Linked DNA regions of Homo sapiens. The protein of the gene in region 2 interacts with the protein of the main gene of each other region in a pairwise test. Each region holds a gene or a part of one and is shown on either strand. Other genes may lie near its edges.

Evidence for each region.
Region 1: the proteins of MAN2B2 (region 2) and KCNK5 interact in binary tests that used the Homo sapiens proteins (3 or more experiments, as listed by UniProt).

What each region holds. Positions count from the first base shown.
Region 1 is NC_000006.12:39,188,465-39,191,507, forward strand, and holds the end of KCNK5 (potassium channel subfamily K member 5), read right to left. Parts: coding exon 2,426-3,043; 3' UTR 507-2,425; downstream 1-506. UniProt on the Homo sapiens protein: K(+) channel that conducts voltage-dependent outward rectifying currents upon membrane depolarization. Voltage sensing is coupled to K(+) electrochemical gradient in an 'ion flux gating' mode where outward but not inward ion flow opens the gate.
Region 2 is NC_000004.12:6,570,844-6,578,188, forward strand, and holds the start of MAN2B2 (epididymis-specific alpha-mannosidase isoform 1 precursor), read left to right. Parts: upstream 1-4,345; 5' UTR 4,346-4,367; coding exon 4,368-4,505; intron 4,506-5,734; coding exon 5,735-5,881; intron 5,882-7,345.

The DNA.
Region 1 (3,043 bases), on a different chromosome or scaffold from region 2:
ACAGTGGTAGAGGGGACAGGAGCTGGGCTGCCTGGGTTTGAATCTAGTCTCACCATTTTTACTGAGATTTTGCACAAGGCAACTTCTCTGTGCCTGTTTCCTCGTCTATAAAATGGAGATGTACTGATGCCCTCTCAGGGTTCTTGCCAGGTCAAATGAGTCCACTCACGTATTATTCAGTGCAAGCATTTAGTGCCTGACAAAGTGGTGAGTGACATGCGTTTGCCATGATCACCCCGCCTCTCCCCTTGCTCCTCCCACTCCTTCCTGATTCTCAAACCTCTACTGCAATGTTCCTCCCGCGTCCTTACCTCCCCACAGAGGCCTGCCTCTCCCCGCTCTCTTCATCTCTTTTCATTCTTTTCTCCCCTCCAGACCATCCAATCCTCTTATCAGTCTGTCCTGAGTCCTCTCTATCTTCTGTGGATGCGCCCAGGCTCCCCTGCTGCTCAGAGGCCAGAAGCCAACCCCTCTCTAACCTGACCCACACACAGCACACACCAAGCTGGCCTGTCCACCTCATGTTTTATTGTAAAAATGTTAAAATAAATTACATTTGACATCGTTGCCAGTATGTACATACAGTGTGCGCGATGCCAGGACAACCAGCAACAACATGGTTCATTAAAACATTTCACAGAAAAATACGAGGCTGCTCCTTTTCAGGCCCCTGCTGGGTGGCGGCCTCTGCAAACGGCTAGAGAAGTGGGGGTGTGGGCACGTGCCCATCACTGTCTTCACATGTTGGGGAGGTGGGCTCTGGCCCCACTGCCCCACAGTAGTGGGGCAGAAGGCAGAGAGTGAACGGAGCTGAGCGGCTCTGATGACTTGCTTCCTGCCCGGCCTCCAGTCACCCGCAGTGGATGCCCCTTCCTGCTTTTGCTCACCTCAGTGTCCCCTTCTCCACCTCTGCTTGGGGACATGGCCCTTGACATCATGGCCTTGGATGAGGTCACCGAAAAAGGCCCAATTGAGTTGCAGGGCAGGAGGGCAGACACTAGATCTCCCAATCCTTGGGACCCTGCTCTTTAACCACTGGCTCTGAAGCCAACAACAGATTCCAGGTATATAAAAACAGCAGTTTGTTTAAAAAATAAAACAAAAAATAACAAAAACATTCAGGACACAGTGGGCCAGCCCCAGGGTGAACATCATGGAGAACCCAAGAACTCTAGTAGCAGCAAGTTCTGCCCACCCCTCACCAGAGAGTCCACCAACAGTTTCACATTATCTTTTGCTCCCCAGCCCAAATCCTTTCCTTTCTTAAACACACACGAGTGCACAGGTGTGCGTGTGCACACACGCACTGTGCACACACACGTGCACATCAAACACTAGCTAGAGAAAGGAGCTTGATTCACATATCTGACCATCACCCATTTGTGGGCCAAGAGCAATTTGGCCTCACCCTGCCTGGCCCAAGGGGGCTGGTGGGAGGGGAAGGCGGGCAGTGAGGTCCTTGTTCAGGGCACAGGGAAGGAGAAGACAGCAGGATTGGGAGTGCAGGTCCTGGGGCCAGCGGGCAGGGTGTGCAGTTCTCAGGCGGGCAGGAGGGGTAAGGGCAGAACCAGCCAGAGCTGAGCCTCACTCTTGCAGCTCCCTGGCCACCAGCCCTAGCAGTCCCGGCTTCCAGTAACCCATGCTCTGCTACTCTCCCTCCTACCACTTGGGGGCCCACAGAAAGCCTTGCGTCTGCCACTGCTTGACCTGAGACAGGGAACACAGCTCTGGGCTGGGCCTGAGTAGACCAACAAGGAGGATGAGGACCCCAGGCCCCAGGCCCACATAGGACTTGTTTCCAGGCCCTGTGAGTCAGGACTGTTTGAGACCCTGCCCTCATCTCCTCACTCCCACCTCCAGCAGCCTCCACCCCACTACGGTTTGTAGTAGGTGCCCGACCTGACCGGCAGGCCCACAGCTGGGATGCGGGCGGGCCCTGCTCCTGCTGTGGTACGGAAACACCTGACCCCACGCACAGCGGTACCTCCCCAGACACTTCAGAGCTCCCTCTCCAAATGCCGAGCTCAGTAATACCGGTAAACTTAAACAGCTGAGGCCCCAGACCTCAGAGAACCGTGTGATACTCCACCAAATGGTGAGACAAAGACCCTGCAGGCAAGGCCTCCTCAGGGTCAGTCCTGCCCACCTGTCCCGCCAGCCAGCATGTCTTTGCATTGTGAGATACACCAGCCAAGCTCAGGACAGATGCCCCCACAGCCAGGGTATGGTTCAGCTGGAGAACAGAGGCCCTGTCCCGGGCATACATCTAGCTGAGGATGATGGAAGGTTAGGAAGGCCCCTGGCCCCCCACTCCCAGTTCCGAGGCTGCCCCCCCACCAGGGGCCAGGCGTCCCGGTCATCTCGGGACACCCTAGGGTGAGGGGGGAAGAGGCCATCAAAGGTGGGGTGGGGAGCCGGCCCTGCCTCATGTGCCCTTGGGGCTGTTAGCCTTGTTGTACTCATTCATCAGCTGTTCGTAAGGCACAGAGAGCTCAGACTCAGTGCTGGTGAAGGTGGACTCGGAGGAGGAGGGGAACTCGCCCATGTTCAGGGGCGCCTTGGCTTCAGCCCCCTGCTGGGGGCTCTCCTCCCCTGCCAAGTTGTCCTCTAGCGAGGACTTGGAGGTCTCCTCGTCTGAGAGGCCAGCCTCCGTGTTCACGAAGGTGATGCTGGCGTCCTGGAAGATGAGTGGGTGGTAGTCCTGGGCGTCCCATGGCTCGCATTCCTCGCTGATGCGGTCCAGCTGGTTCATGAACACCTCGGGGGCAGGGGAGCTGTCTTCAGGGGCCCGTGCCACAGCCTCCTCATCTGGGGACCTTGATACGTGGCCTTTGCTCCTCAGTGTCTGTGACACCTCTTCCAAGGTGGGCACCCGGTTCTTGGAGTAGACTACCAGGGGCACCAGGGAAGGGGGCAGTGCTGGGAGCCCACCGCCTTGAGGCCCCAGCCCTGGGCCCGGGCCCGTCTCCCCACCCCCGCTTGTCTTCATGGCCTTCTTCCCGATCTGCTTGATGAGGTCGTTGTAGGTCTCTTCCTTCTTGGA
Region 2 (7,345 bases):
CCAAGGGCTCCACTTCACAGCAAAAGAGGTGCAACCGCAGGCACACCCATGGTGTCTAGTGGTCCTATTATGTGCTGTACAACCCAGAGGCTGCTGGCTGATGGGGAAATGGAGTGGCCAGTTGAAGGCTCAGCCACAGCACCAGCTTGGAGGTGCCACCTGTGAAGCAAGGGCACCATCCTCCAGGGTGTATGTACATCCCAAGTCAATGACCAGTACACGATGTCCCCAGTGGGTAAAATACCTGGGCCTAAGAACCAAAGAATGGAAGCAGGAATAGCCTAATTTAGCATCACTCTCAGTGACCTACTTGGAGAATATGTGCTTCCTGTCCACACAACTACAGATTCTGTAGGTTCAGAGGTTCTGGTTTCCAAAGGGGAATGCTTCCACCAAGCGACACCAGTCACGCCAGGCTACTCATGTCAAGACACCAGTAGGCAGGGGAAGAGTCACCCATCGAGCAGGGGCAGTTGACCTGAACCATCAGAGGAGGTAGGGTTGCTGTCACACAATGGAAGCAGAGAAGACTGTGTGCCACCCACATGGGTGTCCCTCAGGACTCTTTCACCTGATGTAGTCAGCAAATAGGCAAGTGAGCAGCTATGGCTCAAGAAGGGAATGGTCACCAGGGGCTCATCCTCGTTGGTGAGGATCTGGGGCAACCCACCAGGTAAGCTATCTAGTCCAGCATGGGTCTAGCTGAGGGTGAAAGGGATCTGAATGAATAATCCAGGAGGGGGTTGTGAGTATCACCTTCAAGCCTGAGACTAGCTGCAGCAAGAGCTCACGCAAGAGCCTTGAGGAAAGTACAAATGAAACCCTACACAGCTGTGATACAGTGGGCAGGAGAGAAAATGACATGAGGTCTCACATGTTGTTGTAGTCAGATGGGGGGCTGGAGCTGAAACAGCATGGTGATCTTGAGCTGCTCCCTGTGGTCTGCCCCATGTGGGCTGGTTGGGCTTCCTCACAGCATGGTGGCCTCAGGGTAGTTGGACTGCTGACAGGGCAACTCAGGCCTCCAGGCACGAGTGCTCCAGTGAACATGGATGTCATGGAAGTCACACAGTACAACTTTCACTACATTCTCTTTGTAACAAGTGTGTCACAAGCCCGCCCATGGGCCAGGCACAGTGGCTTATGCATGTAATCCCAACACTTTCGGAGAATCCCTTGAGGCTAGGAGTTTGAGACCAGCCTGGGCAACATAGAGAGATCTTGTCTACAAAAAAGAAAAGAAAAATTAGTTGGGCATGGTGGCATACACCTATAATTTCAGCACTTTGTGAGATGGTGGTGGGAGGATGCCTCGAGCCCAGGAGTTCAAGATCAGCCTGGGCAACATAACGGGATATTATATCTAAAAAAAAAAGAAAAAAAAAAGTTTTCATTAGCCAGGCATGATGGCACATACCTGTGGTCTCAGCTACTCAGGAGGCTGAAACAGGGGGATCACGTGAGCCTAGGAGTTTGAGGCTGAAGTAAGTTAGGAGTCCACCACTGCACTCTGGCCTGGGCAACAGAGCAAGACTCTATCTCTAAAAAACACAAAAATTAATAAAATAAAAAACAATAAATAAACAAGATTCAATGAGAGGAGACATAGACCCTATCTCCTAATAGGAAGAATGTCAAGATCATATTGTAAATCAAAAATAAAATTATAAGCCCCAGCTGAGAGAATGGACCCCCTGTCGGCCAAGGGGACCCCAAAGAAACCCAAAAAACTAGTTCAGGCCATGATGGGAAGTGGGAGGTCACACATGCCTCATCATAGCCTCCTCCCTTTAAGTTTCGGCACAGCTGACCAGCATTAACATTAACATAGAGATCCTCCTAAGACTGACAGAACACTTTTGTAGCAATCAGATACCCGATTCTAACATGACTCTGGTATAGCAACACACGACAGAGAGCAGGCCCTAAAGGAAATCAAAGTATTTTACCCCAAAATAAATTTTCTTTGACATATTTTGAAATGGACTTGCAAAGTCATCTCTTGTGGGGGAAACTTGCATTCTGTAGAGAATCTCCTTACTTACTAGCTCTTTTCCAGAGAGTCTGATACCTTTTAAGGTCCCCAGAGACATGCACATCTATTCTCTCTGAAGCCTGCTAACTGGAGGCTTCATCTATGTAACAAGAACCTTAGCTTCCACATCCCCATTGTCTTAACTCAAGCATTTCTTTCTGCCGACTCCAACTCTTCAGGTAAAGCTTAACTCTTTTAACCAATTGCCAATCAGGAAATCTTTGAATCCTCCTCTGACCTGGAAGCACCACCCACCCACTTCAAGATGTCCCACCTTTCTGGGCCAAACCAATGTATACTTTACATATATTGATTCATGTCTTTGCCTGTAACTTCTGTCCCCATAAAATGTATAAAGCTATAGCCCAACCACCTTGGGCACCTGTTCTCAGGACCTCCTGAGGCTGTGTCACAGGCCATGGTCACTCCTATTTGGCTTAGAATAAACGTTCTGAGATATTTTAGAGTGTGGCTTTTCTCGTCAACCAAATTCTACAAAGAGCTTGGGGGGTGGGTAATGTTGTGGAGCCCATCTTTGGCAGATACAGTCTGCCAAAGATTGTGACACTGCCTTATCGATAAACTCAGTGGCTTAACACAATTAAAGCTTATTTCTCCCTCTTGTCACAGCTCTTTGGGTTCCTCATGGTTCCATGTGGTTCTTCAGAGCCTCCATTGGTGGCTCTAACCTCCCTGAGGTCCTCGGAGTGCCCTCCACTGGAGCAGTGGGTGAGTAAGAGAGCAGGGCTCACCCACAGGAGGTTGTTAGGGGCCAGCCTGGAAGAGGAGCACAGTGCCCGCCCCCACCCATCCCATTGACTAGCACTTAGCCACGTGGCCGCACCTGGTTGCAGAGGCTGGAGAGTGGAGCCCAGCTGTGAGCCTGGCCGGTCATGGGGACATGTGTTAGTGAGTACTGTCCACGTCAGGCTCAGACCATCTGACCTGAGGCTATGGGGATGCAGGGGTCCCCAGGGGGTGGACAGGACAGAAGGAGGAGGGAGACCTGCTTGGAGAACCTGTTCTCAGTTTCCATTTGTTACATAATGGACAAGAGGACCAGCACTTTTGCTCAGAGCTGCAGCTCTGGTTCCGCTAGGAAATGCCAGGCAGGGGCACAGCCAAGTGGTTCTCAGACAGTAAACCCCAAGCCACAGACCCTTGCTTTCTTGGGCAGGGAGTAGTGGACAGGGCTGACTCCAGGCAACAGTCCCAAACAGGCTGCACCAATGTGACCGCACCTCCCCTGAGTGCAGGCAAGGGGTGCTGTGCTCACGCTCTCAGCCTGGGTGCATCCTTACTTTGTTCACAGCTCCTCTATCGGACCCATTTCACTGAGGCTCAGCGAGGTTACCTATGTCGCCCCAGGTCACCATCCAGTAACCCAGAAAGCTTCTCTTGGCTCCTCCACTAACTGCGTGATCTTGGACAAGTCAGTTACTGTCTCTGAAAGCCAGTTCTCCTCCTTAAAATGGAGACAGTTGAGCCAGGCATGCTGGTTTATGCCTGTAATCCCAGCACTTTGAGAGGCGGAGGCAGGAGGATCGCTTGAGCTCAGGAGTTTGGGACCAGCCTGGGCAACATAGTGAGGCCCCCATCTCTATAAATTTTTTTTTTAATTAGCTGGGTGTGGCAGTGTGCCCCTGTGGTCCCAGCTACTCAGGAGGCTGAGGTGGGAGGATCACTTGGGCCCGGGAGGTCAAGGCTGCAGTGAGCCCTGATCGCGCCACTGCACTCCGGCCTGGGAGACAGAGTGAGATCCTGTCCAAAAAAAAAAAAAGGAGACAGTCCCATAACAAGCCCCCCATGGCGCCGCCCAGATGGGGTTTCGACGCCAGGGAGAGGAGGGAAAGGGTTATCAGGGAAGGTTCCTGGTGGCAGAGCTCACAGGGTCCGTGCTGAGCCGAATTTTGCACGGTAGCCTCAGAGTCCCGGAGCCGAGTCCAGAGGGCGGGATGCAGGTATTGCGAAGAGGCACACGCTCCGAGAGGAACCACCAGAGCGTGGGCTTTGGGCGAGGAGGGGTCTCCTCTGGTTGGGGGAGATCTGGCAGGCTTGGGGGAGATGGGGCTGAAAGGATGGACAGGGAGGGAAGGCCAGAAAGCTGGAGACGGGGATGGAGAGCTAAACCGCAAAGAGCAGGCGCCCTGCCCCGCTGAGGGCCCCGCGCCTCCAGCTCCTCCTTCCCGAGCTTCCCGGGGTCGGCGTCCAGCCGGCAACCAATGGGCCCCGCCCCCGCCCGCAGCCAATGGGCCGCGTCCCCGCCCGCGCGGCCGCCCCGCCCCTCGCGGACCCGGAAGTGGGCCTGGCACCTTCCCGGCCTGCCGCAGGGATGGGGCAGCTGTGCTGGCTGCCGCTGCTGGCACCGCTCCTGTTGCTGCGACCGCCAGGGGTCCAGTCCGCCGGCCCCATCCGGGCCTTCGTGGTGCCCCACAGCCACATGGACGTGGGCTGGGTCTACACTGTGCAGGTAGGTGCCGACCACGCCCCGCGCGCCCCTGAGGCTGCAGCTTCCCTCTCCCCGCGGGATCTGAGTGTGGGTTTGCGTCCCGGGGCCCGATGCCGGCGCAGAAGGAGGCTCAGTGGGTTCAGGACCCCACGCTGCCATTGACTGGTTGCGTCGCTAACTTCGGGCCAGTCACTTCCTGCCTCTGAACCCCCATTTCCCCTTCTGGAGGGTGGTGCAGATTGGAGGGACCCCTGCATTCCCGGCTGGGGAGGGGCTTGGGGGTTGACAGTGGTAACCCATTTTCCAGGGAAGCCTGGAGCAGGAGAGGGTGGGGCTGGCTTCAGAGCAGGTGGATGTCAGGTGCCCGCTGGGAAGGGGCCGGGCTGGTCCCCTGCGGGGCTGAATATTGGAGGCCAGCTCAGCGTCCTCCGCCCCCCAGGACAGGGGTGAAGGTGGACCTGTGGTCACCTCCTGGTTCTGCTCAGGACCTTGGGCGAGGGGCTTTGGTCCCTAAGCCTCAGTTTCCCCATCTGTAAAGGGTAGGGGAAGCATGCCCACTACAGCCAGTTTCCAGAGGAGAAAACCGAGGCCCAGAGAGGGTTGCTGCCTTGCCCAAGGTCGCTCGGGAATAACCCTCATGCCTCCTGACTCCCTGCTCGGTGCTCCTTCCATTCATGTAAGCACTCTGTGGGCACCCTGTGTGCAGGGCCCTCGGGACTCGGATGGGAACACACTACAGCTGTGGTCCTTGGAGCTCCCAGCCTTGGGGAGGCAGACGCCTAGACGCCAGGGACAGCCTGGGGAGCTCTTCCTCTCAGCACCAGCTTTCCTCATTTCAGCCCCAGCAGGCCCCTTTGGGGTCACTGGACCACACCCCGACTGAGGCCTAAGACTTTCCTGTGCTGCCCCTCAATGGCACACTCAGGGCCCAGCCCCCCAAATTGCACACTCAAGGCCCAGCTTGCTCACCCCTCTGAGAAACTGTCCCTGACCCCTGGGCTGGGAGGGCACCTGTCTCTGCCCATGTAGGGTGTCTGTTTCCCCGTCCCTCTCCCCCAGGAGAGCACGATCCCATCCAGTGGGGAGAGCCTGGTATGGAGCGAGTGCCTAATAGCTGTGTGGGGGGTGAGCAGCAGGGAAGGAAGGGCAGAGCCCCCAACCCCATGCAGACACACCTGGCGAATGGCAGGGGCCCCAGGGACACTTGGTCTTGTTGGACCGGGGCTGGCATGATGCTGTCCCCTCCCCAGGAAAGCATGCGGGCGTACGCCGCCAATGTCTACACCTCAGTGGTGGAAGAGCTGGCCCGCGGCCAGCAGCGCCGGTTCATCGCTGTGGAGCAGGAGTTTTTCCGGCTGTGGTGGGATGGCGTCGCCTCGGACCAGCAGAAATACCAGGTAATGAGGTCACCAGGTGACACAGTTGGCCCAGTATCCTGGCAAAGACCCAGGTGGAAAACTCAATGGGGCAGTTCTAGCCAGGGCCAGGGCCAGGCTGGCATAAACCACAGGGCCAAAACCCCACCGGGCTATTCACAGCCTTGTTTAGATCAAGGTTCACGGTGAGTTCCATGCCTGGGAGAGATTGCTTTCAATTTAATCCTGAATTTCTGTCTATTCTTGAAAAAACTGCCAGCTCTGGCAACCCAGCTGTGCACTTCCGTGCCAGCTGGCACTAAGTCAGCAGTGCCCCCTGACACCAGGCATCCCAGGTGTCCCCAAGCCCTCACCCTCTTCTCTCATTTGTGTTATCTGCCTGGCCCCCGGGCCCAGGGTCTGGTGACCCTTGATGAGGGTGCGATAGTCCCTGTGGTTTGAGGGTAGGCAGCAGGTTGCTTCATACAGCATGGAGAGTCAGAGTCCCCGCTGCACAGTGAGGCAGCCTGGGTCCCATCCTGCTCCCGCACCAGGGGACACGACTAGCCCCTGCGAGCCACAGATTCCACTTCTATTAAACGGGGGTGACCGCCCCATTGCAGAAAAGTCATGCCAAGAATGAAGCCCTGGCGTGAGCACCCAGGACGATACTCGGGGGTTCTTAGTTTCCTCCCAGGTATCCACCTGCCTTCAGAATAGTTGCTGAACATAAAGTTCAGGGACGCCAAGTGACTTGCTCAAGGGAGTGAAGCGGAGAAGGGAGAGCAGGGCGTCCACCAGGCCCCGCCAGAGTCACGGGAAGGAGCCGGACATCCAATGGCCACTTGATGCTGCCAGATAGTGGGGTTCTTACCTCAAGTTAAAGAGACATTCCAGGTTCAGAGAGGGCACGCCACTGGCCTGCAGTCACACAGCTTGTAAGCGGCAGGTGGGATTCTGAGCCAGGCATGCCTGACTCGAGGCAGGCCTTTCCAGGATATCCTGTGAGCGTCCCATGCTTCTTCAGGTGGACCCCACCAAACCCAGTGGTCTGTCTCCTAGCCCTCAAAGAGAAGCATGGCCTGCATGGCCCAGTGAAGACCTGGACAGGAAACTTGTGGCAGAGCTCCCTGGAGGCAGGAATTGTTGCCTGCTTCATTCACTGCTGAACCCCCAGTGCCTGAACAGTGCTGGTTGTGTAGTAGGTGCTCACTTAACATTTGTTGAGTGAATGATCTACATATAGTGCACCTTAAGAAACAAACCAAAGGCACAGCCTATAAACAGCTGTGTGTACACATACTGAGGTGTGTAGTGTCTAGGGCAACAAAGGTGTTATGTGTGTAGAGACGGGGATGTTAAGCAAATAGGTTAAAAATGGTAGTGATGAGTGAACCTTGGGAAAGGATATGGGAGCTCTTTGTTCTATTCCTGAAACTTTTCTAAAGTTTAGAATTAGTTAATAAAATAAGATTTAAGAAAATCTTATATATACAAATATATATC